Linked DNA regions of Homo sapiens: region 1 is linked to region 2. Evidence: fine-mapped expression QTL. A gene starts in region 2. The other region holds a variant in brackets. All regions are shown on one strand. Distances are from middle to middle. Region 1 overlaps LOC105370504 (a long non-coding RNA gene). Region 2 holds the start of CDKN3 (cyclin dependent kinase inhibitor 3).

Evidence for each region. PIP is the estimated chance that this variant, and not a neighbour inherited with it, causes the effect.
Region 1: its variant is the best candidate, but not a certain one, in a credible set for the expression of CDKN3 in T cells (GENCORD, PIP 0.50).

What each region holds. Positions count from the first base shown.
Region 1 is chr14:53,563,972-53,568,371 of GRCh38, forward strand. The region is part of intron 2 of LOC105370504 (a long non-coding RNA gene); the gene reads left to right. Among named protein-coding and RNA genes, the nearest start is that of LINC02331, 280 kb to the right of the region's middle. The variant C/T (reference allele first, on the strand shown) is at 1,763.
Region 2 is chr14:54,394,753-54,399,152 of GRCh38, forward strand. CDKN3 (cyclin dependent kinase inhibitor 3) reads left to right here and starts at 2,255. Exons shown (of 8, transcript NM_005192.4): 1 at 2,255-2,325. The coding sequence starts at 2,317.

The DNA of each region.
Region 1 (4,400 bases), 830 kb before region 2:
GAAACCTCTACATATACACTCAAAATAGCCTTATTCAAAATCACCAAAAACTGGAACCAACCCCAAAATATGTCAATGGATGAGTAATCCATGCAATAGAATACTACTCAGTCATAATAAGTTACAAACTATTAATACATACATCATGAATGAATCTCAAATATATGACGGTAATTGAAAGAAACCAGTCTCAAAATGTTGAATACTGTATGATTCTGTTTATATGATACTCTGACATAAGCAAAACTGTAGGTTTAGAGAATAGATCAGTGGTTGCTAGGGTTGGTGGGTATAGAGCTCTGACTTCTGATGGTCAGTACAAGAACATGCTTTGGGATGTTGAAGTTAAGCTAAATCCACTTGTGGTGGTGATTACAAATATCTGTGTGTGTGCTGAAACCCATATAACTGTAAACAAGACAAAATGTTACTCTGTGTAACAAAAATATAAATTTAAAATGGCAATGACCATTTTATTGCTTACAATTTTTTGAGTCAGGAATTTGGCAGGGTTCAGCCAGGTTCAGCTGACCATATGGTGTCAATTCAGCTGGGACTGAAGAATCCAAGATGGCCTCACTAGTGTGTCTGGGTCTTGATGCTGGCTATTAGCCAAAGGACCTTAGTTCTCCTCCATGTGGCATCTCTTTCTACCTGGTTTACTATCCTAGGATTTCTCTCTGCATATGTCCTCTCTCTTCAGCAAGACAGCTTAAACTTCTTACATAGCAGTTGGGTTATGAGAGCAAAAGTGGAAGCTATAAGGCCACTTAAAGACCTGGTTTTAGAAATTCTAGAATGTTACTTCCATTGCATTATGTTAGTCTTGTCCAGATTAAGGAGAAGAGAAATAGTTTCTACCATTTGCTGGGAGGTGCAGCAAAATATCATTACATAGGAGTATGGACACAAAGAGACATGATTCATTGGCAGGGGGAGGTGGGAGGAGGAGCATAGGGAACACATTGTCAGTTCTCACACTGCTATAATGAACTACCTGAGACTGGGTAATTTATGAAGAAAGGAGGTTTAATTGACTCACAGTTCTGCAGGCTGTACAGGAAGCATGGCTGGGAGGCCCTTCATGGTGAAAGGGCGAAGGGGAAGCAAGCACTTTCTTCACATGGCAGAGTGGGAGAGAGAGAGTGAGTGAAGGGGGAAGCACTACACACTTGCAAACAACCAGATCTCCTGGGAACTCTATTATGAGAACAGCAAGGGGGATGTCTGCCCCATCATGATTCAATCATCTCCCACCAGGCCCCTCCTTCAACACATGGGGATTACAATTTGACATAAGATTTGAGTGGGGACACAGAGCCAAACCATATCAATGAATATTCTAAACAGCAGGAACAGCATGTGCAAAGACTCCTAAAGAGCTGAAATAAGAGGAGGTGAAAAGAAAGCATGGTGGCTGATGATGAATGAAAAGAAGTTTCAATAGAGATGAGGCTAGGGAAGAACCTAGAGCAAGATTATGTGGGACATGTAGGCTAATGTTACGGGTTTGATTTTATTCTAAGTGAAAGCCGTTAAAATAATTCAAGCAGGAAAGATCTGATATGATCTGTCTTTTCAAATGGTGGTGCTGGCTCCTGTGTAAATTCCTATATTCATTAATTAGTTACCTGAAGAGAAACACTCTATTCGAAGGTACCCAAATGTAGAATGCATAAAAACACATCCCATTGCAGTTTAAGGTGAAATAATTCACATCACATGTTTTCACACACATTTCATTCAACACATATTTGAGAGA[C/T]TAACATGTGTCAACCACTTTGGTTTAAAAGGCAAATGAATATCATAAATGCTAGCTGTAGTCTTTTTGAAGTCCAGTGAAACCAAAAACAAAGTTTGAATGTCTTGGGAGGGATGAGATATTTTTTCCCACCCACAAGTCAAGTTTTTAAATCATTTACAACAAATACTCTTGTTTGCTTTTAAGACTGGAACTAAAAGAGCAAGTCTACCACCTGGCAAGATAGTGACAATCCATGAAGAGTATGTTGTGTAGGGCTGCACCTTTATTTTTAAGCGCACAGATTGGGGAGAGATGGAAGAAGGATGACAGAAGAAATGCAGACATATTGAGTTCTCAGCAGAGCAGTGCTATATGACCAGCCATATGTCATCTGTGTAGGTGCAAAAGTATAACTAAATATATGAAAGGAAAATATGGAATCATGCTTCACAGTGTGTTAGACAAAACACTTTAAGAAATCAAAATCGGCATGATTCACTGAGCATTTATTATGTGCCGAACATTATTGTAAACTCTGGGGCATAGAAAAGAAATATTAATATAATGTGATATAGAAACAATGTTAGGAAGTAGAGAGTCAGGAGATGGGATTCTGGTCCCATCTCTGCCATTAACTTGGTGTGGAAAGTAGAGCTAGTTATTTGTCCTCTATGGATCTCTGTTTTCTGATTATGCATATTGCTTCCAGCTATGACATTCCATAAGCTCTACTTCCTACCATTGAGTTTACAACCCAGAATTGCTGGAGAACATGACTTAGACAAATGAGGAATCAGATTTCAGTTTGATTCTACCAATGTTTATTGAAAATATTTTCATCTGAAAGTCAAAGTTATGTGGAACTTTGCAGTAAGTGGGTGGATCAAAATACTCAGGCTCACTTTCTATCTTTTTATTGACTGAACTAAGATGATTGTGTTTTTCATTGCAAATTTAAATTTTGAATTCCACTTTTTTAAAAAAAAATCATATTATGTATAATCTTTTTTTTTGGTGACAGGCTAGAGAAAAGGATGCTTGGGTGGCAATTGAAATAGAAATCCACTTTCAAATACTATTACCACGTATTTAGGGGGGAATAAACTTCGAAGAAACACTTTGCTTGTTTAGAACATCATTGTTTGCTAAAAGGTTAATGAAACTCAACTAGAAGTTGAATAAAGAAGAAAATCAATCAATGTCTCCCTTCCCCCATCACCATTATCAGCACCTTCAGGATGAAAAATATAGAAGTCCTGTTATTTTGTGCCTGTTGATTCACATTTTCCCAGGACTCTGGTAGACACAACAGGATTTGAGATGAAGGATATTTCAAATCTATTCCAAAGGTTTTTTCAATGATTGGGGGGTTTCCTGGTTATCTTATTTATATACATACCTGTTTTTACTGTAGCTACTGTGTGCCTGGTGCTAGCTTTATGTTTGTAAATGTCATTTTCACACCTATGAATAAAGGCATGGAGATAGAATTTACCTAACAACAAATATTTGATTATATTAACTATGTTCCTTAACTAGTGTGAGGAACTGGTGAAGTGTAGTGAATATGACAGACATGGTTCTTGACCTTAAGCTTAAGGAGGGGAGATGAAGAGCAAGTGATTATGAGTACGATGAGTGTATCAAAAGGCAGAAGCAGAGAGCTAAGGCCTGTTTAGCAAAGGAGCTGACCTGGTACTGTTTATGGTCTGAGGACAATAAGAACAGTCATATTCAAGTAGAGACCTGTTGTATAGTAAGGAATTTGGTTAAACTTTGGTCCCTGGGAGGTAACCTCTAAGTCTAAAGTATTTTCTGAGTGAGGGGAATGTCTTTGTTATTCATGGATGCCCTCTCCTTGACCATGACTGAGTTTATGCTAATGAGATGACTTAGAATGGGGACTGGCTACTCTGGAAGGACCAATCGTGTGATTAGAGCATTGCGGTTTGATCTGTGTGATGTCAGGCTAACCTGTGGGGAGGGGAGGAGCCTTAGAGATGGAGTTCAATCATGTACTAATATCAATCATGTCTATATAATGAAACCCCAATAAGAACTATGGACACCTGGAGCTCAGTTGAACTTCCCGGTTAGTGATGCACATTGATATGCTGGGAGGGTGATGTGTCCTGAAGATGTGGAAGCTCTGTATCTGGGACCCTCCCACACCTCACCCCATGTGTCTTTTCATTGTTGGTCCCAATTTGTATCTTTTATATAAAACTGTAGTTATAAATATGGTGCTATTCTGAGTTTTGTGAGTTGTTAAAATGAATTACAGTACCAAGGGAGTAGTGAGAACCCCAGAATTTGTAGCCAGTTAGAAATGCAGGTGGCCTGGGAACCCCAGAGCTTATGGCTGGTGTCTGAGAAGAGGAGAATCTTATGGAGGACTCTGCTTTTAACCTGTGAAATTTGACCTAACTTTGGGTAGGTAGGTGTTGGAATTGACCTAACTCTGGGTAGATAGGTGTTGGAACTGAATTTCCTATTATTCAGTTGGATTGCAGGGATAAGCAAGATGGGTATGGTTTCTTCCCTGTCAGAGTGACTAGTCATTGCCTCAATACCTGTACCATTGGGTAAATTTAATTTTTACTTTAAACGAGATTATGTTTAAATAGCCTGAGGGAAGAGGGCAAATCACCAAAAG
Region 2 (4,400 bases):
GCAGAGGGAGCCAGCTCTGGTCTCTGCCAGCACACAGAGGGGCTCCCACAGTGCAGCGGCGGGCCGAAGGGCTCCCGAAGCGTGGCTAGAGTGGACGCCAAGGCCGAGGAGGCACTGAGAGCGAGTGAGGGCTGCTAGCACGTTGTCACCTGTCGATAGGTGCACCTAAATACGGGTTCATTATTTGACCAAAGGCGGGATTCTACGTCTAGACATGCATACCCACCTACATTCTCTTGTACACAGTACCATGGCCGTTTCTAATATGAAATGGAAACCTACATATCAAAACAATAGCTATAAATACGTGGTGGGTGTGGTCTGTTCCTTAACCCTACTAAGGCCTTCATCTGAGGAAGCAGATCTATATTAAAAGAGAGCAGTATTTCCCAAGTAGCCCTTGAGTTCACACAAAAATTTTGTTTTCTAATTTGGCCTTTGATTTGATTTTGTTTTCTAATTTGGCCTGAGATAATCAGCCAATATGGTCACCATATTGAACAGCACAGATCTAAAAGGATTTCCCGAGTATGGAAAATCTCTGTGGGTGTCTAGGATGGTTAATTTTGTGCATCAGCTTGACTGGGCCATGGTGCCCAGTTATTTGGACAAACATTATTCTGGATGTTTCTGTGAAAGTGTTTTTGGATGAGATTTGCATTAAATTGGGAAACGTTGAGTAAAGCAGACTGCCATCCATAATATGGATGGGCCTCATCCAATCAGTTGACGAGCTGAATACAACAAAAGGCTGACCCTGCCCTGTGCAAGGGGTAATTCTGCCAGTAGACAGCCTTCAGACTTTACATGCAATATTGGCTCTTCTTTGTTCTACAACAGCTTTTGGACTCGAAGTACAGCCTTTCCTGAGTCTCCAGCGCACTGGCCTCCCCCCATCAGATTTTGGACTCTCCAAGCTTCCACAAGCACAGGAGCCAATTCCTTAAAATAAATCTGTTTCTATATCCATATATACACATCCTATTCATTCTTTATCTCTGGGCAACCATGACTAGCTAATACAGTCTCTAAATCAAACTGTGGTACCTTCTTTACTAAGGAATTCCTTCTAATAGCTCTATACCCATTGGCTTTCACAACATGAATCAGGGGTTGAAATTTCTGCATATTTTTCTCAGATCTGCTCCAGGCGACTTCCTTTCCCATGGCTAGTTAAATGGGGACTGGAGAAGGCGGAGAAATACTCACATTTTTAAAAGATTACAGCTAATTATGTAGACACACTGGCCCTTAGACCTATCTTACCTGGCATTTTATAATTTCCCTTTCACACAATATAATTTAATTCATATTTGGGGGACAGGAATATTGATCTACACTGTAACTTGTCTAGTTTCTGGAACGATAAACTAAAACTTCAAGCATATAAAATATGTTTATACTCTAAATTTTTAGTTTTTTCCCTAGTATTTGTATGTCTAGATATAATTACAAAGTCTATGTGATGTTTTTCATGTGACGATCCAATACAGTGCTTCCCTGAGCCCTTAAAAAATAAAAAATAAAAATACAACTTAAAGAAACAAAAACTCCCTACCGTAGCCGCTACAAGGGAGGCTAAGGCGGGAGGATTGCTTGAGGACAGGAGTTCGAGGCCAGCCTGGGCAACATAGTAAGACTTCCGTCACAAACACAAAAACTCCCAACCCGGGTTCGAGACCAGCCTGACCAACATGGAGAAACCCCGTCTCTACAAAAAATACAAAAATTAGTCAGGCTTGGTGGCACATCCTTGTAATCCCAGCTACTCGGGAGGGTGAGGCGGAGACTCGCTTGAATCCGGGAGGCGGAGGTGGCGGTGAGCCGAGATCGCGCCATTGCACTCCAGCCTGGGCAACAAGAGCGAACTCCGTCTCAAGAAAAAAAAAAAAATCACCTCCCAACCGTATGGACCACGCTGACATCCTGCCATCAAGAAGCAAAGCTTTCCAGCGTCCCCCAAGCGCTAGGGCCGCCTTCTGACTCTTCCGCCCCGCCTCCGCCCCCTGCACTCTCCCAACTGGCGGGAGGAGGGCGCCCTCCCAGCCAATCAACGTCCCACAGGGCCCGCCTCCCGCGCGTCTTTCAAAGGTCTTCTAGGAACCAGTCAGCGATTAGAGGCCGAGTCTTCGGCCACCCAAAGGCGGAGTAAGAAACCAGAAGCGGATCTGATTGGTTGCTGGAAGACGCCGCGCCCACCTCACAGAAGGACGAACCAGTGAGCTAAGCTGCGGGGCGCGGGCTCGGCCGGGGCACCGGTGAGTCGCCGGCGCTGCAGAGGGAGGCGGCACTGGTCTCGACGTGGGGCGGCCAGCGATGAAGCCGGTGAGTCGGACGTGCTGGGGTTTGGAGGAGCGAGGCGGCAGGGACGCAAGCGGTCCCGGGGACCCGATCCTGGGCCGGAGGGCAGCCCTAGCCTGGTAGCAGTGCGACTGGCGCCGTAACCGTTCTGCGGGTCGGGGAGGTGACTCGCACGGGCCCAGCACGGGCACGAGAGACGAAGGAGCAGGGTCGGTGGCCGACGAAGGAAAGACGGACATTCGCTGTGCACCTGCTGTGGGCTGTCACCTGTCCCCTGCGGGGTCTCATAAGCCTCCCAGCCGCCCAGCCAAAGAGGGCCGAGCCTCGTTGTACCGAGGAAACCGAGCCGAAGAGCTTGAGTGTCAGCGATGAGTGGGCGCGATACCCCAGCCCCGAAGGGTGGCCGGGCGCTACCTGCGCCCACAGGGCCTGGGGAAACCTTGAGTACGAATGCCACGCCGCGGCTTGTGGGCGACACCACCGCTGTCACCATGCCCCAGGGCCACCTGGCAATGCTGCTCTTTTCCCGTGACGTTCAGAATCACAGGGCCTGGGGAAGCAGAAACGTCCAGCTCTGTTAGGATTAATAAACCTGGTGAATGGGCCACACAAATTTGAAATATGAATCATCAAAGTTGCTTTAAAGAAAAAACAGATGCAGGCAAGGAGCTGAAGATCCCCCACCTAACCCATATTTCCTACTGCCCGGCTTGACAACCTACTGGAAGCCTTTCCTTTGGGTGCAGTTGATTATAATACTTCAGATAGAGCCAAAGCAACAGAAATCCATAGCCTAGGGCCGGGTGGTGTCTCGCGCCTGTAATCCCAACACTTTGGGAGGCCAAGGCGGGCGGATCACTTGAGGCCAGGAGTTGGAGACAAGCCTAGCCAACACGGTGAAACCCCGTCTCTACTAAAAATACAAACATTAGCTGAGCGTGGTAGTGCACGCCTGTAGTCCCAGCTACTCGGGAGGCTGAGCCACGCAAATAGCTTGAACCCAAGAGGCAGAGGTTGCAGTGAGCGGATATCACGCCACTGCCCTCCAGCCTGGGCGACAGAGCAAAACCCTATCTCAAGATAAAAGAAAGAAAGAAAAAAAAGTCCGTAGCCTAAATTAGCCGTCCTGTGATCTTCTAGTACCAAGACCGTTGTAGAATATAGCTTCAGAGCTAGAAAGAGCATTAGGTGCTTACAATTGCTAATCCCTATGTTGCCATGTGGAGGGACATCAGCTGTCCTTCACTCCTGGCCTCTTTCTCCACCTGTCCCCATTGAGTTATCTGATCCCCGAGTTTGGAAGGAACTGAACACCAGTATCTCAACTTTTTCTTTCCTTCTTTCTTGGGATCTACCTGCCTGCCTGCAGAAGGTGCTTTCTGGTCCACTCTCTGGCACACAGGAGCCCCAGACTGTCCATGGCCACCTGTGACTGGGTGGATACATTTGTCTAATTCTGGGGTGAACAAGGGGCAAGCCCACGTGGCAACAGCTTTAAGCTGCATACTCCATTTGATATACAATAATAAAACTCCATTTCTTTATCTTTCAATTGGTTTCAACTAGGGAGTGAGAAAAGGGTATGGGTTTTGTTCTGTTTTGTTTTTGTTTTTCTTTTTCTTTTGATTCCTTAAAATTTCAACAAGGAGTGTAGAAGTCTTCCATGTCAAAATGCTGCAGGATTAAGTTCCAACTGCTTAGATCAGCATACGAAGTCTATCTCAATCTCTCTAGTCTAGTGATTCATAAAGTTGGAGGCAGGTTATTTCACCTACACCACCCCCACCAAACTACTAGGCCATGTGGGGATGTTTTTTGAGAAAAGGGGTGGGCAAAACTACTTCATCTCCTCTACTCCATCTCTATTTTGATATCACAGTTCCTCAATACACAAGCCCTTGGCTTAACTTCTTTCCTTTCTTTTTTCTTCTTCCTTTTTTTTTTTTTTTTTTGGCAGAGTCATGCCCTGTCAGCCAGGCTGGAGTGCAGTGGTGTGTTCCTGGCTCACTGCAACCTCTGCCTCCTGGGTTCCAGGGATTCTCCTGCCTCAGCCTCCCGAGTAGCTGGGATTACAGGCATGTGCCACCATGCCTGGTTAA